Linked DNA regions of Homo sapiens: regions 1, 2, 4, 5 and 6 are each reported to be linked to region 3. Evidence: microRNA targets listed by miRTarBase, many of them from high-throughput screens and not tested one by one. Region 3 holds a microRNA gene; each other region holds the end of a gene's coding sequence.

Region 1 (5,116 bases), not on the chromosome of region 3:
TTGGAAAATGCACTTAGGTAAGTCTTAACGGTGGAAATATTCAACTGTGGATTTCCTGATTTGTTATGATTCCTATATAGCTATTCCTAGATAGTATATTTGTGTACTGTCATTGTCTTCAGCCACTGAGGAAGCACGAAGACTTGTTTCCACTGAAGATGCTTGTGGATGTGAAGCTACACTGGCATTCCAGGACAAGGTCAGCTCGTATCTTCAAAGACTGAACACTAAACATATCCTTTCTGGAAGGTTTTCTCCTTCTGCCTGGAGCCAACCAAGGTACTACGATCGAGCCAAACACTTTAAGACATTCCACAGGCAAGTGACTTATTTGTTAGGTTTTAATATGAGCAGTGGTAATATACAACTTTAAAAAATTTAGAGTTCTTTTCTAATGGTTTAATAGACTGTTTCACCCATTCAATATTTACATGTAAAAGCTGCCTATTTTGTCCCCTAGTGCTTTTCCATAACTGTATATGCTCCTAATGATGCTCTTACATAACAGATGGAACATTTATGCTAATGACTCCTTAATATGGCTTTCTTAGTTCAGAATCTGAACATGTACAAAGCAAGTCAGCTGATTAATGGGGTGTGATATCTCAGATTACACACAGTTGTACCCTTTGACTAGCCAAGTGGTCAAAAAGCAGATTTTAAAATGTAACATGATACAATCTCAGAAACTTTCAAAATCAGTTCTTTCTTCAAAGGAGTAACTAGGGAAAAGTTTCTCAGAACAGTTCAAGTTAACAACTCTGTTCCTATGTACCCCAGAGGAGTGGAATTTAGATTGTGGTAGGTACAATCTAGGCGTATGTAGAGACTTTTAAGGGAGGTACAGATAATTGGAAAGAATCAATTTCCAAATCCTTCACTTGCTTAAGACACTACTTGGAATCAGCTGGCATTTTCTTTTCCCGTCTCTCATTTCCATATCACCATTCTCCTAACTTCACACAAGAAAGGCATACTTCTCATTTACCCTAGATCTACTAAGGTGCATTTGTTAGAACAGCAGAATCTTGAGATAGCCAAACAAAGGGACAATCCAACTATCCCTTTAATCAATACTTCATAAACACTGCTTCCCCCATCCCTCACACTAAGATGCTACTCCAATTACATTTTATATGAACAAAAACATCTGAAGACCACTGCAGGGGTCTACTTTTATTGTGCTCTCTGAAGAACAGGATTTTTGACTTTTAGACTGAATTCAACTTTTGGTGAGAAAACAGTTTTGCTCTTTTTTTTCACTTCTCATAGGACATAATTATTTTATCTTGTGAAGTGTTTGAAAGTGTGTTTATATTTTCTAATGTGTAAAAATAAATGGTGTTGGCCTTAACAACTTGCCACTTGATGACATTTTGGAGAAGTTGAAAATAAATGAATATGGACAAATACATCGTTAAATTGCTCCAATTTCTCACCTGAAAATGTGGACAGCTTGGTGTACTTAATACTCATGCATTCTTTTGCACACCTGTTATTGCCAATGTTCCTGCTAATAATTTGCCATTATCTGTATTAATGCTTGAATATTACTGGATAAATTGTATGAAGATCTTCTGCAGAATCAGCATGATTCTTCCAAGGAAATACATATGCAGATACTTATTAAGAGCAAACTTTAGTGTCTCTAAGTTATGACTGTGAAATGATTGGTAGGAAATAGAATGAAAAGTTTAGTGTTTCTTTATCTACTAATTGAGCCATTTAATTTTTAAATGTTTATATTAGATAACCATATTCACAATGGAAACTTTAGGTCTAGTTTCTTTTGATAGTATTTATAATATAAATCAATCTTATTACTGAGAGTGCAAATTGTACAAGGTATTTACACATACAACTTCATATAACTGAGATGAATGTAATTTTGAACTGTTTAACACTTTTTGTTTTTTGCTTATTTTGTTGGAGTATTATTGAAGATGTGATCAATAGATTGTAATACACATATCTAAAAATAGTTAACACAGATCAAGTGAACATTACATTGCCATTTTTAATTCATTCTGGTCTTTGAAAGAAATGTACTACTAAAGAGCACTAGTTGTGAATTTAGGGTGTTAAACTTTTTACCAAGTACAAAAATCCCAAATTCACTTTATTATTTTGCTTCAGGATCCAAGTGACAAAGTTATATATTTATAAAATTGCTATAAATCGACAAAATCTAATGTTGTCTTTTTAATGTTAGTGATCCACCTGCCTCAGCCTCCCAAAGTGCTGGGATTACAGGCTTGAAAGTCTAACTTTTTTTTACTTATATATTTGATACATATAATTCTTTTGGCTTTGAAACTTGCAACTTTGAGAACAAAACAGTCCTTTAAATTTTGCACTGCTCAATTCTGTTTTTCGTTTGCATTGTCTTTAATATAATAAAAGTTATTACCTTTACATATTATCATGTCTATTTTTGATGACTCATCAATTTTGTCTATTAAAGATATTTCTTTAAATTATACTGAATTAACAGTTATTTTGATATTCAACAGTTTCTTATCAAAAGACAGAAGTTTGATTCTCCTCCTATAGTTTAATCTCACACTCCTGAGGCTAAAAGTGTAAGTTCAGGTTCAAAAGAAAGGCTTCAATATAAAATTATCTAAATTTGGATAAAATAATGATGAGCTTTACATTAATATAAGCTCCTGAGAAGCAAATATATCCTACAGATGTAAATATAAAATATAAACTTTAAGGAAGGAACAAAAACTAAATATACCAAGGAAATATATAAAGCATCTCTTACTTTTCAAAAATTTTGAAAGGGTATGACATAGAGCTACAGTAGTATTTTCCAGACTTTTTTGAGCCCAAAATCAGTAATACATATTAATATACCACAGAGAAATGGTGGTATAGAAGGAATAAATGAGAGTTCATGTGCAAGAAGGGAAAGATAAAGAGAGGTGAGTTTTCAGGTGTCACCATCAGTAACTAGCTTCAACTAATTATGTCTTGACCAGTTTATTGGAAACTCCTGGGTTAGATAATACTAATTTGTCTCATGCGTCCAGTATAGGGAGCCTATGGACAGGGGCCAATGTATCTTAAACAGACACACAAACAATGGAAAGCAAACATTATCTGAATGGGATTGGGTTAAGTTTGGAAAGAATTCCTCATGGAGACTGATTTGTGCTGGTTTGGCTAGGCACAACTGGCCTGTTAAGAGGGTAGGACCATATATAAAGTGGCTTGGGAAGCAGAGCCGGATGGAATGTTGCCCTGCAGAAAGCATATTGGCTTACTTGAGGTGGGGGCTCCCTAGTAAAAACATTTAGGATTGAGGGAAGATCTGATTTTGGATGGAGTTTAGATTTGCTAGGAAAGGCACTAGGGACTATTGTCAATTCTATAATAGATTGTGCTGGGTGAGACAAATCACCCAGGTCAAAGGATTGGAGGATTTTTATTTTATTTTTGTCTGAGATGGGAAAAGACTCCAAGTGGGGAAATTAACTACTGATGCATAAATTACATGCTAGATTATGGTAAAAGGGAAAACCAGAAATAAAAACATAGGTGAGACCAAATAATTTCATGAGTGGTTCTACTTGGATTTCTGCCCTATGCCTTAGACTTTGAGGCTTTGTAACTCTCAAGCATTCCAAAAGGACAAAGGAGAATGAAGAAAGAAGGTAAGAAAAAGAAGAGAATATGTAACAGTCGACTCTAGACGAGAAAACACCAAACGCTCAAATATTTGTAAAATGGGAGGCCATGCCCCAATAGCAATTGTACGCTGTAATTACCCAACGTTTACAGAAATTCCTTTAAAAGGACCCTCGGGGTTGCGGTAATAATTAAACTGTTAAAAAATATCAAAACAAGCGGAATAAACAAAATCTTCTATTCCTAAATTGCTCTAGAGGTTCTCCAATCCCCAAAGACACAGAGAAGGGTTGTAAGATCTCAGTACGCACATTTGCACTTTCATCTGGCCAGTGGCGCCAGCCTATCAAATACAGTAAATGGCTTTTCCCTTTCAAGAATGTTGGAACTTTGGAACTTACAAAATACTAAATAATTTGCCCTTATTCGAACGGGCGCCTCTCCTCTTAGGTTTATAGTAATGCCACCTGAGGCGCGGCTCCATAGCGATCATCACAGGTGTGGCGGGAGGGAGGGCGGCAGTGACCACGAGACGGGGCGCAGAGGGCGAGCGCACGGCTGGCAGTGACAGGTCGCGACCCAGCTCCTTGCGGAGAGCAGAAAGGCCCAGACGCCAGGGAACAGGACTAGCCCAGCTACCGCCTCGCGCCTCGCGCCCTGCGCCCACAAACCCATCGACGTCCGCGCAGGCGCACTACGCCGGTGCCCGGTGCGAGGGCGTCACCGGAAGTGTCCCGCGGCGCCCCGGATGCGACCGGGCAACAGCGGTTGCCAGGGCGACGGGAGCTTTCCGGAGCTGCTGGTACTCCCGATTGGAGACGTAGAACCGTTACTTGTCGAGGGCCTTAGCGGCCGCCGTGACCCTCTCGGGGATCCCACGATGTTCTTCTACCTGAGCAAGAAAGTGAGTTTCCTGGGGGGCGTCCTCGTTTCTCCGCCATTCCCGCAGCCTGCGGCGATTCCCGCTGCCTTCCCGAGAAGCCAGGCTCCTTCACCCGGTCCTGGTCGTGGCTTCGCCATTCCGCAGCCATCCTTCCCGCCGGGTCCAGCCTCCGACCTCTTCCTGCGGTTCCCAGAGCCTCAGTCTTTGGCCGAGCTTGCTGCCCTCTCGCAGCACTCTCCCATTCCTGCCCCTGGCTAGGTCCTTTTGGGTGGCTTGAGGATAAGTCGCCACGTGCTACCCTATGTTTCCTCCTCCACTTGTTGCTGATCCACGTGATTTAAACTCTTTGGATCACCACGAGCCATTGGGCAAGAGAAAAGAAATAACAATAGGATAGCCTAAGTTGTAGGTAAAAAGGAAGAGGGACTGGTGGTATGGATTTATACCCTCTCCCCGTCCTCCCTTTAAAAAATCCATCCGGTGAGACTCTGGCGTTGGCTTCCTCCGCAGTCACTATCCTTCTCTTTTGTGCACTTCTTTCCCTCTTTCCCAAATGCTAGAGCCCGGGTCAGTTCAGGGGACCATGCCCATTTTCAC
Region 2 (3,000 bases), not on the chromosome of region 3:
ACCGGTGGGGCCGCAGCTGCAGGTACATCGCATGGGGATTCCACACACACTCACTTTTCCGATTCCAGCTTTTATTGGGCCGAGCACTCCCCTCCAGGGGAGGCTGCCGTCAGAAGGGTGGGGACGCAGCACCTTGGTCGCCATCACCCCCATCTGGGCCACCCTGACCCCCGTCTCACCCAGGCAAAGGGCCTGTTGCTGGCAGACTTTGGGGTGGGCAGGGGCTCAGTGGGGTGCCCGGCAGCCAAGGGACAGTGCGAGTGTCTCGGTGGCATCAGGGGCCCCAAGGGTCTGTTGAAGCAGGAGGAGCCTGGTTCGGGAGATGGGGGATGGGATGGGGGGTGGGTATGGGGAATAGGGATGAGGGATGGGATGGGGGATGGGGTCAGGGATGGGATGGGGGATGGGATGAGGGATGAGATGAGGGATGGGATGGGATGGGGGATGAGGGATGGGGGCCGCAGCCATCCCCCTCTCCGGTACCCAGTGTAGGTCACAATAATTTAAAGACACTATAGACATTTCGACGCTATATAACAACATAAGTTAACCAGGTTCCTTGCAGAGGCTGCCGGGCCTATGGACTCAGGTGTGTTCTGGGACTTGGGGAAGGTAAGGGGATGGGGCCAGGCTGAGGGTGGGGCATTCACGGTGGCCCGGAGACTCAGAGCGTCCAGGCATGGTTAGAGGCACATGGGCTGGACCACAGGGCCAGAGCCCAGGAGGGACCCACTTGCCCCAGGCTGAGCCCAGGCCCTTGGCTTGTCGGCTGCTCAAGAACACATTCCTACGGGCTTCCAAGAGAACACACCCTAAATGGGGGCCAGGCCGTGGGCAGTGGGGGTGCACCAGGAGCCAGCTGCAGACCATCCTCTCTGGCCTCGGACAAGTTCCTCCCTCTGTCACTCATGCTCCTCAGAGACAGGGGTGGGAGCATCCAGAAAGGACATGTCCAGCTCTGGATCCAGATTTTCTCAGCACTGGGGTCAGGGTAAAAGGACCAGGACAGGGCTAGGCGAAGCCTCAAAGGCACCGAGGGGAGTGCAGGCCCCAATGAGGCTGTCAGGGGGTGGAGGGAGCAGCCAAGTGCCTCAAGGCATGGGAGCTACCTACTGCCACCCCGGGCATCCTGATGTGTTCTCCCAGGTCCAGAGCCCCAGGCTGGGCAGGAGAAAGGTGGAAGCCTCCAGTCACAGCTGCAGGGTCTCTGGTAGGTCCTTGTGCCACTCTGGGCCTCAGAGTTCCCATCTGTCAAGTGGGACAAACATCCCTGACCACTCACCACCTGCCTGACCCCCGCGGCAGCACTGTCCCAGGGGTCAGGCTGGCTCCAGGGGGAAGGGGGTCTCTGTAAACTGGAGGTGCCAGGCCGGGAGGGTGACAGGATGAGGGAGGGAACGAAGGACTCCTGGAACCTGACGTGGGTGATATTTTGATTTGCTTGATATTATTTTCTTTTCTTTTTTTGAGACAGAGTCGTGCTCTGTCACCCAAGTTGGAATACAGTGGCACAATCTTGGCTCATTGCAACCTCCACCTCCCGGGTTCAAGCAAGTGTCCTGTCTCAGCCTCCTGAGTAGCTGGGATTACAGGTGCACGCCACCACGCCCAGCTAATTTTTGTATTTTTAGTAGAGACAGGGTTTCACCACGTTGGCCAGGCTGGTCTCGAACTCCTGACCTCAGGTGATCCACCTGCCTCGGTCTCCCAAAGTGCTGGGATTACAGGTGTGAGCCACCGCGCCCAGCCATTGATAGGATTTTCAAAAGAAGGAAAGACGGCATGGAGGAGCCTGTCCATGGCTCTCCTCCAAGGCCCGGTCAGGGCTGTGTGGTCTGAAGAGCCCCTGCCCAGCTCACTTCTAGGACCTGCAGGCACCGCGTGGTCCCCATCAACCCCAGGCTGCCTCAGCTCTGCAGGGGCAGAGGGCCGGCCAGGTGGGGCCGGGAAAGGAAACAGAGGGTGTCTAGGGGATGGGCTGACACAGAGTACGGAGTTAGGACTGGCTATGTGTTAGTGCCGAGAATCCTCTTCTGATACTAAGAAAACATAAATAATTTGTGTCAACATCTGTCCCCACCGCCCCAGGGCCCAGCGGCAGACCCAGCCTGGGAACTGGTCTGGAGAGGCCAGCCGGCGTAGCTTTTCTGTGTCCATGCCGCCAGGTGGGGCTGGGGACGCTCAGTCTCCTCATCACTTTGCTCTCTGGGATACAGGTGTGTCCTGGACGTTCATTTTCCCAGAGAGAAGAAAGAGAACTTGCCGGGCCCCGTCGGGGAGCACCAAGACCCCTGGCCTTGCTCTCTGGGTGGGTCACGGGTGCTGTTCTGCCGCAGGAGGTGATGGGAGGAGGTGGCAGGAAGGAGCCCCAGGGAGGCGGGCAGAGGGCGTGGGCCCCGGCCGGTGCCCTCCTGCACCTGGAGCTCCCCGCTTCTGCACCCGTCTATGTCTGCTGCTGGCAGCACCAAGGCAGGGAAGGTGAGGAGTGGATGTGCAAAATGCCGCCGGGTTCCAGGGTGCCCGCGGCCGCCTCCGGGCCTGGCCTCACTTGCAGGTGAAGACCTCGGTGCGCTCGCTGCAGGTGTTGCACTTGACGAAGCAGCACCAGTGGAATTTGCAGTTGCACTGCCACACCTTGGTGTACTGGTGGGTGTTGTAGCCTCGGCCGCAGCACATGGTGTCACAGCCGTCCGCGCCGGGCGACGTGCGGTTGCAGAGACGGCCCTGCGTGCCCACGCTGCCCGTGGCCGCGTCCTCCTCGCAGTAGTTGGGCGACTTCTCAATGTACACCAGGTCTGTCTCCATGGGCTTCTGATAGCTGCGCAGCTGTTTGATGCGCAGGAAGGTGGGCTGCCGCAGACGGCTGGCCCGCACCACCTCCACCTGCACGGCCGCGTTGTACTTCTCCTTCAGCAGGTGGCCCACCTCTCGGAACTTGGGCAGCGTGGTCCAGCAGGTTTTGGTGGTGCAGGAGCCAGACACGCCGTGGCACTTGCACTC
Region 3 (5,116 bases):
TGGCAATTTCCAGGTTCAAAATGGGCCACCTCTATTATTGCATTTGACCCTCAGTGCCATCCCACGAGGCAATATTATTCCCCTTTCACAGATGAGAAAACTGAGTTTCCATTACATCTCTCGCCCACAGTCAGTGGCCTGGTGAAGCTGCACTGGTGCTTCAGCCTTTCCCCTTGCACAACGCTGCTGTCCCTATGGCCTCCCTTCAGTTCTCCATGGCAGATGGGGATCCAGGGCCCATAACTGGGGCAGGGGCATGGGGGTCCTCCAGGTTTCCCTTTTTCTTCCTTGAACCCCATCCAGCCTGCAGGTGGGGCTCTGGGGTTGCAGGTCCACTGACCTTAGTAACAAAGGCTCCTTGGGGGTGAGGGCTTCCATGCCTCCTGTGTTCACCCACCCTGGGACCCCTCGAAGAGGTGCCGGGACCCCTGACACCCACCCCCATTTTGTCCCAGGCTTCTCACCTCCCCCTCCCCAGAGCCGCAGCCCCATGACGCAGCCAGCCGCTGTTGCCCCATTGGCCCGCCCTAGTGCATTTGCCCTTATTTGGCCAGGCCAGCTCCAGGCTGGGTCTCCACCCCCGGCCCAGCCCCCGCAGGCCTGTCTCTCTCACTTCGTCTTTTTGAGGTTTGGCTCTGGGGCTCTGGGGCTCTGGGGCCCTGGCGGGCGTCACTTCAAACGCACTTTCTGGTTGAGTCACTTTTTAACGGCTCCAGTGCTGTGAGCTGCTGCTGCTGCTGGGTCCCTGGCCTTGGGGGCCAACCCTCCCCCATTTGACTGCTTAATAGGCTCTGAAGGAAAGGGCTGGGGAGGCCATCTGCTGCTGGAGAGACTCTGCGGGCCACCTGGCCACCCAGTTAGGCCCCTCTGCCCCCCAACCCACAAGCCTGGGCCAGAGGGTCCGCCCTGGGTCGCTCCCACTGCTTTTTCCAACGGGGTTGTGAGGGGAGAACAGGTCTTCACAGAAGACCTGTTCTTTGGGGACTTTGAATTGAGCTCCCTCTGGGGAACAGAAACGGGGTGCCCGATTTTCAGGAAGGTGAAACTTAACCTCGCTGAGTTTCCGGTTCCTCATCTCTGAGATGGGGATACCATCACTTACCTCACTGGGTCAGCATGACGATCAAGCGAGATTCAGATTGAGTGTGTTTCATCAAGTTCTCTAGCTGCCTGGGCTGCCTCCCTTCCCTCGGCCCCGAGTGCAGAACGTGGAGGTGAACGGGATGAATCCAAGCTGGTTCGCAGGGCAGTCCTCACTGAGCAGTCTCTTTCCAACTCTCACCACCTTTTCCAGCTGGTCCTGGGATGTGAGGAATCCTGTTGGGGGCAGGAGGCTGGCAGGAGGAAATAGATAGCTCTTTGCCCCTTGTTTCCAGACAAGATAAGGGGAGAATTCTACTAGAGCCATTCCTAGCCACCCTGCCTTCTCTGCATTTTGGGAGGTGTGCCCTCGAGCCAGCTGAGAAGATACCATGGCTGCCTGGGGGCTGGGCAGGATTTGGAACACAGATACTGCTGCTTCCTCCTGCGAGGTCTCTGGGCTCCTGTGCTCTTGGGGACTTCCTAGAGCACAAACAAGTCTTTTGGTCAACTCCCTCCCCATTTTTATAGGTGAAGAAACAGGCTGGGGTTTAGGGGCAGATTCAGTGACTGGCCCAGAATTGTACCATAAATAATCACAGGGTGAGGATTAGACCCCTAGTTTCTTGACACTTAATTTTATCCTCTGCTTGGTGATCCTGATGTTGGGATAGGGAGTGGGGCTGATGAGGGATTGTAGTGGGTTCCAGGCAGAAAACCAGCTCTTGGACCCCCTCCCTGTCCCCGCCACACATACACACACAATTTATTTGCAGCAGTTGGAACTGGAGCAGGTGCAGCTATGCAAGTTAAACCCAGCACCTGTGTGTGGAGAGAGTCCAGAGGGAGCTTTCATCTCTCCACTTGTGTCCCCAGAAGATCCCAGAGGAGAAAGCTTCTGGTTTCACGGCCACTCCCACAGCAGTGGTCAGGGTAGCCTTCCTCACACCCACACCCCCTTTCCACCCAGCCCGTCCTGCCTTTTCCCAGATGTTGTGGAAAGAACCCAACTTGGCCCTAACTTGTTTTGTGACCTCAGGCTGCCTTCTGCCTCTCTCTGGGCTTGCAGCTCTGTTTCCTGACTCGGGACCAGTTGCTGCCTAACCTTGCTGCTTAAAAGTCCTTGGGTCTTATGATCCCAGGAGATCTGAGCCAGAACCCTGCCCCAGTGCGAAGTGACCTCCTAGTGTGGGCCACTGTGCATTGGAGCTGCCCCTTGCCAGACAGAGTAGAGCAGGAGAGTATGAAATTAAACCTAGGGGAGTCTGGTACGAGCAGGCAGGGGCTGAGGGGCAGCCAGTTTGCCCGCCCTCCTTGCCTGGAGGCCCTTTAGCACTCCTTGTGCTCCCAAGGCTCTGAGATGAGACAGATCTTCTGAGGTGCTGAGATGATCTCTGTAGGGGACATGGGCTGTCTTAGGTTCTTAAGGCACTTGCCTCTCTTGGCACCTGCTTCCCTTGGCTGCCCCTCCAGGGAGATGGGGAAGGGTCTCAACATTTGGGACTATTGACTCCAATTTGCTTTAGCCCCATTTTGCAATGCTAGGGGCTCAGTTTCCCTCCTTTGTGGCCAGGCCTGTCCCCAACTGTAGCTTACTGGAGGGCGGGTCTGCTCTGCCTTCTGGACTTCCTGTTTGTGAGTGGTTAAGTCTGTGGCTTCTCTCTTGTTGGCTCTTTGTAAGGCAGGTTATCTGGGCTGCCATCTCCCACTGGCTGCTTGCCTGCCTGTGAGTGAGGGCCCCAGGCCCATGCAGATGGCAGGGAAGGGTTGGTTTTCTTTTCTGCCTTCATGTGCGGACAATGAGCTTGTGTCATTTCTTCCACCCTCTGGGCCTGCTCTCCTTACAGGCATTAGGCCTTCAAAAGACAATTTTCTCCCTGTTTCTCCTCCTTGCCCAATCTCTCCTTCTAAACCCTCTTCCACCTGTACTCACATTCTCCAGGAAGCCTTCTCTGATGGGACTCCTGTGACTCTAAGGTTGCTACTACAGCATCCAACATCCCAGCCCCTTGGGCCCTGGCAACTGCCACCTGGGATGGCCTTGTGCCTGTTGCCGTTACTATGTTAAATGTAGATGTGTGTGTCTACTTCACCCTCAGATTCAGTGCTCACTAGAAGTAGGAACCAAGTGTCCCCATCAGACCTGAAGCTCTGCCCCTGCTTTGGGTACAAGACACTCACTTGCACTGACACACACACTCGTACACACTGCCTATCAGGCTGGGAGTGCCCAAGGACAGGTCCTGTGTCCTTTTCTCTGCCGGCTCACCTTTGCCTACCCACAGCCTCAGCTTGGCACACAGAGATGGTTGTCCCCCAGGTCGGTAAGGTGGGGGTGGCAGTGAGGGACCATGAGCCTGGAGCCCTCCAGGATTCCAAGCCCAGATCCCTCTATCCTGATGAAGGGCTGTTCCCACCTTGTTCCTGCCGCCCCCGCCCCCTACTTCCTCTGAGCAAGAATCTGAATGTCAGAACCAGGGAGGGCCGTGGGGGACTTTTGACAGCAAGTCCAAGTGAGCCAAGGTTGCCCAGTGACAGCCTGCTTGAACCTGGATCGGCCGCCAAGGAGGCGGAGTTTGAAGTATCAACTTGAACTCCTCTCTCCACAAAGACATCAAGGGTTTGGTTTTTCTCATCCTGGGGAACTCAGGCAACAGGTGGCTTTGGAGGCAGGAGTGGGAGCCAGGCCACTCTCACAGAGGTACTTATGTTCTGAATCCACCCCCAGCTCCTTCCAGTCACCCTGTCAAGCACTGGCCCCAGATTCCCAGGTGACCCTCCCTGTGTCTCTTGGGGAGGACGCAGGTGTGTCCAGGAGTGTAGATAGGCCTCCTCTAGGTGTGTGTACAGGACTGCGGGGTGTGTCGGCGACAGCGTGTCTGTGTCTGAATGTTTTGGGCTCTCTGGGCCGCTGTGTCTGCATGTGTGTTTCCATGCAGGCACTGGCTGCTCTTCCCTCAGGCACCTGCTGGTCAGTCACACAGGCCACGCATCTGGGTGGTGGCAGCCTACGTCAGGCTTCGAGTCCAGCAGCCTTGTTCCAGTCACAGGTGGACGGCCCATTCCATGTATCCTAGCCATTCTCACAAAGTTTCTTATTGTCTCTGTATTCTTATTTTAGACTCTGCCCCTTCCCCTGTCCTTGATTTTGTCTCTGGCCCTGTACCATTTCTTCTGGTTTGAGGCCCAGCAGAGTCGGGAGTCATCGCTGGGCTGGGGAAAGTCCAGGTCCTCATTCCATCCTTCTTTAGCCCCAGCCTCGGGATGGGAACCAGCAGAGGGCCTAGACTATCCAGAAACCCCCTGACCCCAGAAGCTCCGTTGACAGAGAAGCTGGGCCCTAAGCTCTCTTCTCAAAAAAAGAAAATAGATAAATAAAAATAAAAACTATTGGTGGTCTTTAGGCATTGAGGTTGTACAGAGAAAATCAGCCTCTGTTGTCACAAGACAACAGGCAGCAGGGACACCTCACCCTGCTCAGGACAGGAGAAGGGCTAGATTGGAGACTGTTGGAGCCATGTGTGTCCCTTGGAACCTCAGCTCTGACTCGCCACAGGTCACATGCTGAGGGGTCTATGGCATAGCTGGGCCCAGAAGCCGGGCTCCTGGGTCCCATTCTGTGACTCTCTTTTGTGGGGACAGGACGCCTCTGAAGTGAGGGCTATGGAGGCATCATAAGCAGGAGTAGGAGGTAAGATGCTCTCAGGGGAGGAGCCCTGAAGAATGGGGGTCCAGGAACCCAGGTTACTGCACAACTTTGATATTCTTATCCTCTTATCGCCTGGGGCAGCCACTTCCCCTCCACCCAGGTCAGAGGCAGCGGTGGTCTCTTAAAGGAGTATCGCCCCATTTCTGGCCAGCTGGCCCTGCAAGGCAACCCTCCTCACCACTTTCTCTTTAGACTCAAGGGGGTGAAAGGCCCCATTCCCCCTTTCTCTGTCCCATTTTAGGGACCTGGGAATGGGGCAACTTTCCAGGTTGAAGGACCCCCTTCCTGGAGGGAAGGATGTGGGGCCATCTCCCTCCCCACTGCCCC
Region 4 (3,000 bases), not on the chromosome of region 3:
TGCCTGTAGTCCCAGCTACTCAGGAGGCTGAGGCAGGAGAATCTCTTGAACCCAGAAGGTGGAGGTTGCAGTGAGCTGAGATTGCACCACTGCACTCCAGCCTGGGCGACAGAGCGAGATTCCATCTCAAAAACAAAAACAAAAACAAAACAAAGAAGGCCGGGCACTGTGGCTCATGCCTGTAATCCCAGCACTTTGGGAGGCCGAGATGGGTGATCATCTGAGGTCAGGAGTTTGAGACCCACCTGACCAACATGGTGAAACCCAGTCTCTACTGAAAATACAAAAAGCCAGGCGCAGTGGCTCACGCCTATAATCCCAGCACTTTGGGAGGCTGAGGCAGGCAGATCACCTGAGGTCAGGAGTTCGAGACTAGCCTGGCCAACATCGCGAAACCTCGTCTCTATTAAAACTACAAACATTAGCCAGGCGTGGTGGCGTGCACCTGTAGTCCCAGCTACTTGGGAGGCTGAGGCAGGAGAACCGCTTGAACCCCGGAGGCGGAGGTTGCAGTGAGCCGAGATCGCGCCATTGCACTCCAGCCTGGGCAATAAGATCAAAACTCTGTCTCAAAAAAATAAACAAAAATAAAAATACAAAAAATTAGCCAGGCATGGTGGCATGCAACTACTTGGGAGGCTGAGGTAGAATAGCTTGAACCTGGGAGGCAGACGTTGCAGTGAACAGAGATCGTGCCACTGCATGCCAGCCAAACAAATAAGGTCATGCTGATGGCATCCAGGGCTTAGGATATGGACATGTCTTCTTGGGAACCACCATTCAGTTCCCAATAATAATTATCAAACCAATGGGGAAAAAGAGCATACTGAAAAGCTTACGAATTCCAAGTGTGGGGAAACAGTAACTGAACATCCATTATAGGCCAGGCACTGCACTGGGCACTCAAAATAGCATTCTCATTTATTCGTCACCACTGCCCAGTGAGCCAGGTTCTGCTACACTTATTTTTTATTTTTTTTAGACGGAGTCTCGCTCTGTAACCCAGGCTGGGGTCCAGCGGCACGATCTCTTGGCTCACTGCAAGCTCCGCCTCCCGGGTTCACGCCATTCTCCTGCCTCAGCCTCCCGAGTAGCTGGGACTACAGGCGCCCGCCACCACGCCCGGCTAATTTTTTTGTATTTTTAATAGAGACAGGGTTTCGCCATGTTAGCCAGGATGGTCTCGATCTCCTTGACCTTGTGATCCGCCCGCCTCGGCCTCCCAGTGCTGGGATTACAGGCGTGAGCCACCGCGCCTGGCCTGCTAACCTTATTTTATATACAAGGAACCAGGCAGAGATGTGAGACAACTTGCAAGCAGGGGCTTCCAGTCCAAGTACCCACTATAGGGTGACAGGCATAGCATTAATACTGTGGGTAGGCAGGAAACCATTTAGCTCAGCTCCAGCAGCTGCCTAATGTGACCTTGATCAAGTCACTAACTACTGTGGGTTCATTTCCTCATCAATAAGATGAGGAACTACTACTAAACCTGAGTTGTAAGGTGTAAGTAATGTATATGGATCCCTCTTTGCACAGTTCCTGGCAGTAGGAGGTGTTCAATAGTTTCCTTCCAGGACCCAGCACTGCCACAAATATGTCATGAAAATTATAGGTCATTTAAAGTTCATAGGATCTTGTGACGCACAAACAAAATACTGAACGTGAAAATGTCCTGTAAACCAAATATACTGCTTTATGAACAAGAGGGATTTAAGAATTCAATTTAGGGCTGGGCACGGTGGCTCACGCCTGTAATCCCAGTACTTTAGGAGGCAGAGATGGGCAGATCACGAGGTCAGGAAATCTGAGACCATCCTGGCTAACACGGTGAAACCCCATCTCTACTAAAAAATACAAAAAATTGGCCGGGCATGGTGGCGGGTGCCTGTAGTCCCAGCTACTTGGGAGGCTGAGGCAGGAGAATGGCAGGAACCTGGGAGGTGGAGCTTGCAGTGAGCCGAGATCGCGCCAGTACACTCCAACCTGGGCGACAGAGTGAGACTCCGTCTAAAAAAAAACAAAAAGATTTTGAATTTAGGCGGGGCGTGGTGGCTCATGCCTGTAATCCTAGCACATTTTGGGAGGCCAAGGCAGGCGAATCACTTGAGGCCAGGAGTTCGAGACCAGCCTGGCCAACATGGTAAAACCCATCTCTACTGAGAATACAAAAATTAGCTGAGTGTGGTGGCACACGCCTGTAATCCCAGCTACTTGGAAGGCTGAGGCAGAACTGCTTGAACCTGGGCAGCGGAGGATGCAACGAACTGAGATCACGCTACTGCACTCCAGCCTGGGAGACAGAGTGAGACTCCATCTCAAAAGCACAAAATAAAAATAACTCAATTTAAACACTAACAACTGATGTATCCTGAAAGCATCAGGACACATGGGAAATGTATTACTGCCACAACCCACAAATTCTCTCCTACAATAATGAGACGACAAATCTGGCTCCAAAGATCCTTTACTGAGATCCACTTGAAACACTTCGGTCCTTAACTTGTTAACTGAGTTGACAGGCTGATGGCTGATCTAGGTAAAGGTTTCACGGTAGCAAAAACACTTCCTGCCTATAATACATCAAAACAGGTTCCTGAATGTGTGTGAATATCATCAAGGTCTCTGTCCCATCTTCTTCAGGGTTCGATTAAGCTAGAAGAGAAAGAAAAGCAAAGTTACATACGGGGATTTCCCCAACCCCTTTCCTACAGTGTGTATGATCACTAGGTCAGATTCCCAGCTGCCCCTCTGAAGCCAAGAAAGGAAGTTTCTGATGTGGGTGTCCACTATGTGTGTGCAAAGCCGTGACATTCATATGGCCCTGCACAGTTCACGCGGATTATTCTTTTATCTGCCCTTCACACTCAACAAACCCATACACAACACTGCTCTATCCATCTGACAGAAAAAGGATTCAGACTGGCCAGACGTTTCAAGGTTACTAGTTCAGTTAGGGGAAGAATGAGAAGCTTTGAACAGGATCCTTGTTAGAAGACA
Region 5 (5,116 bases), not on the chromosome of region 3:
AGGTTTTTGGTCTATATGTACTTCCACCCATGCACAAAGCCCCACTCCCTAGGTCAATGGCCATCCACGAGTTATCTTACTTGGGATGCTGATCCCACCCTTCAAATGCAGAAGTCCCTATGCCTCTGAACTACGGTATGGGAACTCCATCCCGTATAATACCTGGGGTCACTGCTAGCTCACAGTGTGAAAATGAGAAAACAGGTGCTTCCCTCTGAGCAAACACAGGCCCATGCCAGATGCCCAGATGGGTGCAATGGAGCAGAAGCTGAATTTCAGTTCATTTGCTCCCTCAGCTGCTCTTTTACCACACGCAGCCTGCACAACCATTTGTAGTGCCAAGTGCCTTGTGCCTTATGCCTGTGCCTTATGTCCTTCTCTGTCATATGCAAAGCCCTCTGACAGGACTTTAAATTTTGGGGATCTAAGGAGGGATTGTCACTATCTGAAGGTCCTCACTGCTGCTACAATCAGGACAGCTTTAGGGTTGCTTAAAGAATCATGTTTTCTAAGTATTCCTGTTTAATAGCTGAGTTACCAAGCAGGAAGCTAAACTGAGTACGAATTGAGAGTGATCCTATAAGGCAATAGGGAGGACATCTATGAGCTCGACAAGCAGGGCAGTGCTACTTCCTTTTAAGGAGGACTTGAAGCACAGGGCAGTTTGCTTGAAAAGATAAGCCAAATGGACTGGACAACCAGATAGAGGGACATTTACTTTCTTAGTGATCAGGAGAGGGAAGGAGGGAAAGAAAAAGAAGGGGAGGAATGAGGAAAGAAGAGGAGAAGAAAAGGAGGACAGGCAAGAAGTGAGGGTCAGGGTGCCCAGCATATTTGTGCCAGGATCTCAAGGAGAGTTGGAGGAACAAGAGTAACTTAACTTAGAAGGAGATAAAATTCGAGGGATTAATCATGGAATCCTGGATTGTGACATCTCAAGATAAATCCTTAAAGACAAGTTAGATAACAATTATTGGGTCAGTATTTAATTGAAAACCTAAGACTCCTCAAACCAATGGGAAGATTGTTTGCAGCCCTCTAAATGCCTAGAGCACAGGAGATGCTGGCAGTGAGTCCCCACTATGTATAGGTGAAAGTGGAGTTATTGGGATACAAAAAAACTAGGGGTCAACTAGGAACAAGGAATGCAGGTAGCTTGAACCTGAATGTTGCCTCAAGTCTATAATCAAAATCCATTCCAAATATGCCCCCGCCCCCATTCCCTCCCATTGCTCTTTTCTGGGCTAAGAAGTTAATTGCTCAGGGCCTCCCAAATGGGGGGTAGCTGGAGCAGACATGAGGGACTCAGCAAAGAACAAGGCCCTGCTACCCCAGATTTCCCCAGCATGAGGCAAATCTAAGGCATTCCCCCGTGCCATTTGCTTAACTCCTCTGGGAACTTGCAGGACTGGAGTTCCCCAGCAGCACCTCTCAGTTAACATTTTCTCACGCTTCTCTCCTGCACAGATGGGGAAAGCCAGCACACAGGACAGTAAACCTCCTGGGACTTCAAGCTATGAAATTGTGATCTAGGCTGCTGGGCTGAATTCTCCCTCTGGAAACTGAGTTACAACCACCAATACTGGCAGGTTCCCTGGATCCAGATCTTCTCTGCCCAACTCTTACTGGGAGATTGCAAACTGCCACATCTCAGCCTGTAAGCAAAGCAGGAAACCTTCTGCTGGGCATAGCTTGTGCCTAAATGGACAAATGGATGCATACCCTTCCTGAAATGACTCCCTTCTGAATGAATGACAAAGCAGGTTACCTAGTATAGTTTTCCCAAACTTCTTCCCATCATAGCACATGTAGAAAATAATATTTTTATGGCACACTGGGATAAACAAGCAAGATTGCTCACTTCTGGAAGCTGCATATGACTAGAGGCCTCTTGTGACTGGAGGTAACAACCCTGCCCAGTAACTGTGGGAGAAGGGGATCAATATTTTGCACACCTGTAATAGGCCATGGCACACCAGCCAAGATGCTCTGCTCACAGTCAGTATGTGTGAAGATCCCTGGTGCGTGGCCTTCACCACGCATCTTGAGCAAATTAGGAAAATGTACCCTTCGCTTGAGGCAGATGCAGCCCTTCCCCCGAGTGCATGGCTTGGAGAGCAGAATGTGGGCTGCATATAAGCACACTCATCCCTTTGTCTGGGAATCTTTGTGCAGGGCATAACAGGCTTAGTAAGTCCAAACACAGATGACAGTGCTGTGTGGGTCTCTGTCAGAGTTGTGGCTCTCAGCCATGTAGACACACTCTCCAAATGGAGTGTTGGAAAATGTTCTTTCTGCAGGGTCTAGAGACTGCTGGGACACTTTTCTTGGAGTGCTACTTCAGAAGCCTTATAGGATTTTCTTTCTGGCCAAGATTTCCTTCTGTATCACTCCAAGCAGCCTCAGCAGAAGAAGCAGCCATGCCCAGTATTCCCACTCTCCAAAAGGAACTGACCAGCTTATATTTCTCACACTTCTGGGGAACTGGGTATAATCCAACCATCAAAATAGAAGACCTTGCAAGAAGCAGAGTCATTCTCCAGAAGGAACTTGGGAGATGATGGTGCAGATGATGAAACTGGGTTCATCCCAGTTCCAAAGACTCAGAGAACTAGAGTTTAAGCTGAGGCAGAGTGCCGCCACCCTGGCATGCCCCACAAACAGATCACCAGCCAGCTTACACAGGCATTAACTCTCCTCAATGAGGAAGAATCATTCACAACTGAGCAAGACATTCATATGATCATTTAAGGAAGTGTTTCCCTTATGTGTTAGCAAGTATAATCGGCTAACTCCTAAATCCCAATGAATAGTCCTAGGCTGGACAGCAATGGGCTGCAATTAGGCAGATAAAGACATCAGTCCCAGTAAATGAATCCATAGACTCATCTAGCACCAACTACCATTAGCACTATGTTAGGAGCTGCAAGGCCCCAAAGTAGAAGATGTGCATAATGTCTGCTCTTGTGTAGCTCAGGAGACAATTCCAGCACAGACACTACAGTTAACGCTGAACTGCAGCTGCAAGTAATAGCATGAACAGTCAGAAAAATACCTTATGAGGGGGCAGGGCTGAAGCTGGGCCTTGAAGGATGGATGAAATTTGGATAGAGAATGAGGAAGACAGAGGGCCTCCAAGTGAGAGAAGCATGAAAAATGAGCAGGGGCCTGGATCAGTGGGGTGTATTCAGAGCACCTCTCCAGATGCACCATGCATGCTCACAGTCCCTTGCCTATGTGTGGCAGAGTGTCCCAGCCAGATGTGTGCCCTCACCCCATGTCCATTTACATGTCCTTCAATGCCCACCTCAAAAGGTACCTCTTCTGTAAAGCTTTCCCTGGTATCAGGAATCAAAATTAATCAGGGATCTTTTCACACTGCTGTTTTTTCCTCTTTGGTCCTTCTATCACTAAAACTCATCTCATTCAGCCTTACAGCATAACTAATTATTTGTTTTCCTCACTACATTGTACATGTGGGAATTACAGATAAACGGAAGCCGGCTGGGGTGGTGGCTCACGCCTGTAATCCCAACACTTTGGGAGGCCAAGGCAGGCGGATCACCTGAGGTCAGGAGTTCGAGATTAGTCTGGCCAACATGGTGAAACCCCATCTCTACTAAAAATACGAAATTAGCCAGGTGTGGTGGCACACATCTGTAGTCCCAGCTACTCTGGAGGCTGAGACAGGAGAATCGCTTGAACCCAGGAAGTGGAGGTTGCAGTGAGCTGAGATCACACCACTGCACTCCAGCCTGGGAGAGACAGAGTGAGACTCCATCTCGAAAAAAAAAAAAAGATAGAAGCCAATAAGCATGGTGCAATCAAATTCTGGCAAGCATTAAATATCAGGATGCAGCTGGGCACGGTGGCTCACGCCTGTAATCCCAGCACTTTGGGAGGCCAAGGTGGGCGGATCACTTGAGGTCAGGAATTTGAGAGGATCCTGGCCAGCATGGCAAAACCCCATCTGTACTTAAAATACAAAAAAATTAGCTGGGCGTGGTGGTGCACACCTGTAATCCCAGCTACTTGGGAGGCTGAGGTGGGAGAATTGCTTGAACCTGGGAGGTGGAGGTTGCAGTGAGCTGAGATCCTGCCACTGCACTCCAGGCTGGGCAACAGAGTGAGACCATGTCTCAAAAAATAAAAATAAAATAAAATAATATCAGGATGCATACATCAGAGGCTGTTCCTAGTGTAAAGGCACTTTGGAGGGAGAAGACTTTCAGAGTTAGGCAGACCAACTAAGAGGTCAGCTGAAGCACCTAACCAGTTGTAAGGAGGTGAAAGACAGCACCCCAAGAAGAGACGTGCAGGAAGGAGGAAAGAGGCTTGGTCATAAAGGATGGAGGAATTCCAAAGTGACACTGAACAGGCTGCGTTTATCCTAAAATAAAACCACTCCTCACTCTGTGGATGCGTTGAAGACTCATTCCCAAACATCTTTATTCTCTAACTTGCCCTCTTCCTCTTCCTAATATGCTCACTCAAGTAAAATTACTAGTGTCCTAATGCCCCTATGCATATTGTCAAAAATAAAAATCAGAAGCAGGTTAGATCTGTTAGGTCTTCCAGAAGAGCAAACCTGGGATGAAGCCAGAGCCCAGGAATTCTGAAGGTAGCCTTTGGACTCAGGACACCCTACTCTTGTCTCTCCTCTCAGTTTCTCTGCTATGAATCTCCTGATTCATGAACACGTTATCTGTTCACCCTTCTCTCTAGGTCTTAGTTCTTAGATTTTCCTTCTGTAAAATGCATGTGATCTTATTTTCCCCTCCACAACTTTCCAGATGAACTAGACTGTGACCAAGAGGTCTATAAAATCAAAGCATCATGGAACAGGATCTTGTATCAGACCAAAGTGTGCCAGTTTTTAAAAATGTGCATCAAAATGGAAGTCTCAGAGACAGAGCCCTCTGGTGGAAAGTTCTAGTAGGTTAGGACAGTCCTGCCTGCAGACACCTTGGGCTTTACTGAGGGACTCAACTGAGAAAATGAGGAATGTTGCAGCTCATGATTCTTAGAAGAAGAAAGTGAAGCTTGTTTAAAATATGATTTAAAAAATCTGTAGAACACTGTAAACTACACAGGCTATGAGGGAATAGCCTGGTTG
Region 6 (5,116 bases), not on the chromosome of region 3:
TGTACAGCATGTTACTATGTGTGACTGTAACACAATAGTATTTGTGTATCTAAACATAGAAAAGGTACAGTAAAATTACAGTATTATAATCTTATGGGACTACTATTGTTTCTGTGGTTTTTCATTGACCAAAAGTGTATTATATGACATATAACTATTGGGTTTCACTTTAAATTTTTATTTAAAGAATATTTCGAGGTTTTAAAAATAATGGCTAGAAACCACTGGATTAGATGACCTTCAAAGTCTTCTCCAGGTTTCATTTCCCCCAGTCCAGACTCCTTTGCAGCATCTCCCCCATTCCTCAATCTCTCAGTGCCTTTCCATTGTCCTCTGGCAGCTCAGAAGCTCTTGGAATGAACATTTACCACAACTAGCATTCCACCTGCAAGCATCTGCTATGGTCTGAATGTCTGTGTCACCCCCAAAATTTATACGTTGAAATCCTAACCCCCAATGTGATGATATTAGGAAGTGAGGCCTTTGGAAGGTGATTAGGTCATGAGGTGAGAGCTGTCCTGATTGAGATTAGTGCCTTTATAACATAGAGGCAGAGAGATCCCTCACCCCTTCCACCAACTGAGGACACAGGGAGAGGGCCCAGTCTATGAATTGGTCTCTCACCAGACACCAAATAGGCTTGCACCTTTATTCTTGGACTTCCCAGCCCCCAGAACTATGAGAAATAAATTTCAATTGACAGTTTATAAGCTACCCAATTTATGGTATTTTGTTACTACAGCCTGAACTCACTGAAATAGCACCACCAGTATCACTGGTATTACCTCCAGGCCCAGCAACAAAGGGGCGATGTCTGTGATGACTGGGGACTTCGAACCCTGCTTCAGCACTATGGTCATGCCAATCCTTTCCTGTTGTTAAAACAGGAAAACCACCTGATTGGGATTATCTGCACTGGCTTCAATATCGGTGGTGATGACCGTGAGCCCTGGAGCTGCATTACAAGGAGAATGGACACTTCTCTCTACAAGAGAGGTTGTCTTCTCTTTCCCCCTTCTGGCCTCACCCTGCCTTCCAACTTCCCCCACCACCCCAGAAAACAAACAGACAAAAAAAAAAAAAAAACACAAACAAGCAAAAAAAAAAAAAAAACCTTTAGTCTTATTCTAGAGGTGCATATGACTGTGTTTTGAATATCAGCCTTGGCATTCACATTCCAGAAGAACTCTGACCCTTTCTTGATTCTTCTCCAGACCCTTGGCCACAAAATATACTCACCTTCATAGGAGCCTTCTTTAGTCAGCCTTTAGTAACTAAGGCAGTAAGTGATTTATTATAATGCTAAAGAATTAATGAAGCTTTGTACTGGAGGAGGTGGAATAATTTGAATTTCCCAGGAAGTTTTCAAACTGCATTTCCCACAGCCTCAAATATTCTGATACAGCTCTCATACCCCCATTGCCAATCCACAGGGATGCAAGCAGGTTGTACATTTTAAAAAAGAGGTTCTAAATGAGTGAGACAATGTTTACCTCCAGCAAGAACCACTAGTTTACAGTTTGATGTACATTGCCAGGAAAGATTTGCATTTTTAATGCAAATCACTGAAACCAAAAAAAAGGAATAACTCTAGACTTCTGGAACAAGGCTAAAAAGAGATTTTTGCAGTGGGCCACCAAGATGTCCTTGTATAAGCAGAGCCTCCTTCTCGCATGGCTCTCAGTGTCGGAGGTGCCCTGGCCTGGGTTGAACCTGTGTCATTGTTGTGAAGATGTAAGGGCTATCAGTTAAGTGTCTAAATAGCATAACTTCATGGACTCAGATTCTGGCTGATGTGGGTGACCTATCTTAGGTTTCTGCCTATGTCCCTAAGTCCTCAATCCCTGTTAAAAGGCAAGTTCTTAGTAAATAATGAAAATGTATGAGCCTTAGTGGGTTAAACATGAGTGCTGGAGTCATCAAGTCAGTAGGATCAAGCACTAGATTCAGAAGCTGTGGATTGTCCAAAAATCATACGGTTTCTTGGGGTTGGGGGAGGGTTATGAAACAAAGATAGAGCGTGATCCCCATTTTGCACTATGTAGCTGATGCCTATGTGTCGAAAGGATGTGTGTGATAAGGACAGGGAGGGGATGGGAGCAGAGGTGGAGGATGTGAGGGTGGGGAGGTTATATGGAGGGTATGTGTGGAGTGTGAAAAGGAGCATGAAGCACGTGGGAATGGTGTGCTCACACATACACATATGTGTGCATGCACATGTAGTCCTGGACACTACAGTAGGTGCCTGGACTTCCAGAACCTAAAAGTTTGGTGTTGACAGCAAAAAGGAACTAGAGTGCTCTCTCTCCTTGGCTCACACTTCCTCAAAATAAAACTTGATGATGTTTAGGAGCAAGGACTTTGGACTGAGACATGGTTTTCTATCTTAATCCAACACTCACTAGCTGGGGAATCTTGGCCACATTATTTAGCCTCATAATATCACTTCCTTATCTGTAAAATAAAGATATTTTGTGGCATCCCTAAAGGGCTAAGCACAGTGTAACACAAAGACGATCCATAAATAATAACTTTTAAAAATTCTAGCCCATTTCTCAAAACTGATTCCAAAAAGAAATTGCACCATGGCAACGAAATAACCTCCCAAAAAGTAACTTTTGAAATTCATTTATATTCTATGCCTTCTTTGTTTTGAACAGGTTATTTGGCAGGTGGGGGAGGGGATGTGGATAGAGTTCACAAACATTCTCGATTACCTGTGGCTCCTGGGACTAAGAACAGAGTGAAAACATGAAATCCCCAGGGTGATGCTCCTCAGTGGTTTCAACCAATGCAACCTTTCCAAGCATTCTCCCTTGTAAGCAAATAAATTGACAGGAGCTGGCCACTTTCATGTGCCTTTTCCCACCCTCTGATAATGGTGCTGGAAGGTGGAGAGTTGGCCACTCCCTGCAGGACACACAGCAAGAGACCTGGACTGTGAGCTCATCGCAGTTTGCCTTGTGGCACGGGGGACATGTTTGAGCCTGGAAGTTTCCATACTTCTTTTGTTCTTAACATCAAAATCAATCTCTGTTTTCAGCATTGTGGGGTTTGATTGCAACCATTGGAGATTTAGCAAATAACAACTTCGGAATTATAAAGCGAACATATAGTGTAAATATGAGGCCTATGTTACTCTATAAATTATCTGGAGTGCTTTTTAAAACAATTAAAAAGTAATTCTGAAACATTAGTCATAGTCACCCAATGATTTCTTCTCATACTACCAGAAAGTTCCTGCTATAAAGTCGGAGACCACCACTAATTAATTATATAAGAATATTACAAAGTTGATTATGGTCCTAAAAATAAAAGTAATATACAGGTCTCATTTTTGCTCTTTTTTTCTTCTCTGTATAGCCTCTAGAGCTTTTTCCTGCCAATGCTCTTCCATCTATGGAGTTACTGTTACATGAACAGTGTTGGAATTCTCACCGTTTCTAACTACTGGCTTCTCCATAGGAATAGACACCACTCTCTATGCAATAGCTGACTACCGCAAGAGGACCTCAGGCTTTATTTGGAAGCTTCTTGTGGTTATCATAGCTGACGCCACCAATGCCCTCTAGTATATTCATGGGCAGAGGAAACACAATCGTAGAATTCTTCTCGGTGGCTACCGTGCTCAAGGTCTGCAGGTAGCGCAGCTGGAGAGCTATGGGAGACTCAGCCAGCACCATGGAGGCTGACTTCAGGGATTTGGAAGCATTCATTTCTCCTTCAGCTGCAAGGACCTGAAATGACAGAAATAAAATCGTTCAGAAATAAAAGTTTACACTATAACTAGTTCTTTCTTTTTCTGGGTCTGTATTGATACCCCTCTCCCCAGCCCCCATGTTGCCACATGTGTTTCATCTACTTCTTTGGCGAGGATAAGTTTCACTTCCTAACATAATTAGAGAAATTCAAGGAGGTTGCAGGAAGCAAGGAGGGATATTGTACAAATCGTAGGTCCCTAGATTTTATCATCAAACAAAAATAAAAGTACTCTCTTGAATACAAATGAATACTTGGCATCTACCCTAATAATGCCTGGAAGCACTTTGGAGCCTCACTACTTGCTGCATTCATTTCCAGAGAAGTCTGAAATTTAAGGCCTCTAACTGATGTTTTTATCATTTTTAGTTATCTTAGATGTTTTTAAGTTCATTCTGTTGCCACTTTGGTGTCATTCTTACAAACCGAGAATTGTTTCTAGTTCTCTTGGCTCTTGATTACAAGCAGCAATAAGTGCCAGCCTTGTAACACTGGCAATCTCTTAAGTACATCACTCTTTATAGCTCTCAGACTGTCCAGGAGTGATTCAGCTGCCTCATCTGTGGCCATCTGCCTGTGTGCAAAAGTGATCTCTCTTCTATCATTGCCGAGTCCCTTCCTGGAAGCTGCTGGAGCTTAGCAGATAAACCAGATTTGAGTCAAAGAAACACCTTCATCAGCTAACAAGTAAGTTTCCAAAGAGGATACACAAAGGCTTGGGATCCCAGTAGATTTCTGATACTTCAGGAAAGTTATCCACACAGGCATGAAAGTCAGAATCTCAACAGATTTCAAGGACATTCAGAGCCAGGGTGCACTTACATTTTGTAATTCTTACCTGGATTGTATTTAATTGCCCCCTTTTATTCCAGCAACGTTTAATATACAAGAACAACAATGCGCAAAAGACAGGTTCCATGTTGGCTACATCTAAGTCACCAGCTTTATGAAAATAGAGGTTTCTTAGCCCACTCAAGACTGCTTCAAGCCTGGGTTTGAAGTAAGGCTTGGAAATTGGTATTTTGTTTTGTTTTGTTAAATTCTCCCCAGGGAACACTGATATGCGGCTAGAGTTGGGACCTACTTGGCTAAGTTGCTCAGTACGTTACTGAGCATCCTCTTAACCCAAGACCTGCTACCAAACTTCCTCAAGGTACAGTAAGCTGCTGGTTACCTTTTAATTCAGGGAAAATTCTCAGTAAAACTGTGAAAAGAAACCCCTTTCTCATGCAAATAATTGACAGACCCAATCTTCTGTTCAAGTCCTATCCTTGTTGGCCCCAACACTAGGCAGTTCTCCCTCCATGTGTGAACTGCACAACACTTACCTTGGCTCTCGCTTCCCGGGTGGCCTCAG

Evidence for each region. The annotated mature microRNA hsa-miR-4736 reads AGGCAGGUUAUCUGGGCUG and lies in region 3 at 2,760-2,778, shown strand. An mRNA with a match to its seed (bases 2 to 7 or 8) in the 3' UTR can be bound and repressed. Matches are read on the target gene's strand: a 7mer-m8 pairs with bases 2 to 8, a 7mer-A1 pairs with bases 2 to 7 and ends in A, and an 8mer does both.
Region 1: miRTarBase lists MATN3 as a target of hsa-miR-4736. Seed matches in the 3' UTR shown: 7mer-m8 at 2,219-2,225.
Region 2: the mRNA of WNT7B is a reported target of hsa-miR-4736. Seed matches in the 3' UTR shown: 7mer-A1 at 2,354-2,360.
Region 4: miRTarBase lists EIF3L as a target of hsa-miR-4736. Seed matches in the 3' UTR shown: 7mer-A1 at 1,927-1,933.
Region 5: the mRNA of CD84 is a reported target of hsa-miR-4736. Seed matches in the 3' UTR shown: 7mer-A1 at 4,096-4,102.
Region 6: miRTarBase lists STOML3 as a target of hsa-miR-4736. Seed matches in the 3' UTR shown: 8mer at 2,667-2,674.

The regions. Positions count from the first base shown.
Region 1 is chr2:19,989,416-19,994,531 of GRCh38, reverse strand. MATN3 (matrilin 3) reads left to right here. Exons shown (of 8, transcript NM_002381.5): 7 at 123-233; 8 at 1,366-2,480. The coding sequence ends at 1,421. WDR35-DT (WDR35 divergent transcript) reads right to left here and starts at 4,328. Exons shown (of 3, transcript NR_110235.1): 1 at 4,038-4,328. It overlaps WDR35 (WD repeat domain 35), which reads left to right and starts at 4,427. Exons shown (of 27, transcript NM_020779.4): 1 at 4,427-4,540. The coding sequence starts at 4,517. RefSeq lists a silencer at 4,207-4,286 and enhancers at 4,447-4,496, 4,127-4,630, 4,647-4,696.
Region 2 is chr22:45,920,312-45,923,311 of GRCh38, forward strand. WNT7B (Wnt family member 7B) reads right to left here. Exons shown (of 4, transcript NM_058238.3): 4 at 55-3,000. The coding sequence ends at 2,545. Among named protein-coding and RNA genes, the nearest start is that of WNT7B, 55 kb to the right of the region's middle.
Region 3 is chr17:58,333,666-58,338,781 of GRCh38, reverse strand. MIR4736 (microRNA 4736) reads left to right here and starts at 2,760; the gene lies at 2,760-2,806. TSPOAP1-AS1 (TSPOAP1, SUPT4H1 and RNF43 antisense RNA 1) reads right to left here. Exons shown (of 5, transcript NR_038410.1): 3 at 1,103-1,334. RefSeq lists a silencer at 200-494 and enhancers at 1,165-1,234, 2,435-2,644, 2,273-2,814, 2,835-3,014, 3,035-3,084 and 6 more.
Region 4 is chr22:37,888,081-37,891,080 of GRCh38, reverse strand. EIF3L (eukaryotic translation initiation factor 3 subunit L) reads right to left here. Exons shown (of 13, transcript NM_016091.4): 13 at 1,674-2,655. The coding sequence ends at 2,617. Among named protein-coding and RNA genes, the nearest start is that of MICALL1, 17 kb to the left of the region's middle.
Region 5 is chr1:160,544,673-160,549,788 of GRCh38, reverse strand. CD84 (CD84 molecule) reads left to right here. Exons shown (of 7, transcript NM_003874.4): 7 at 1,468-5,116. The coding sequence ends at 1,533. All of the region lies in intron 1 of CD84-AS1 (CD84 antisense RNA 1), which reads right to left. Among named protein-coding and RNA genes, the nearest start is that of CD84-AS1, 10 kb to the right of the region's middle. RefSeq lists enhancers at 1-151, 1,249-1,518 and a silencer at 302-351.
Region 6 is chr13:38,963,313-38,968,428 of GRCh38, forward strand. STOML3 (stomatin like 3) reads right to left here. Exons shown (of 7, transcript NM_145286.3): 6 at 5,088-5,116; 7 at 2,613-3,737. The coding sequence ends at 3,513. Among named protein-coding and RNA genes, the nearest start is that of STOML3, 25 kb to the right of the region's middle. RefSeq lists an enhancer at 1,403-1,572.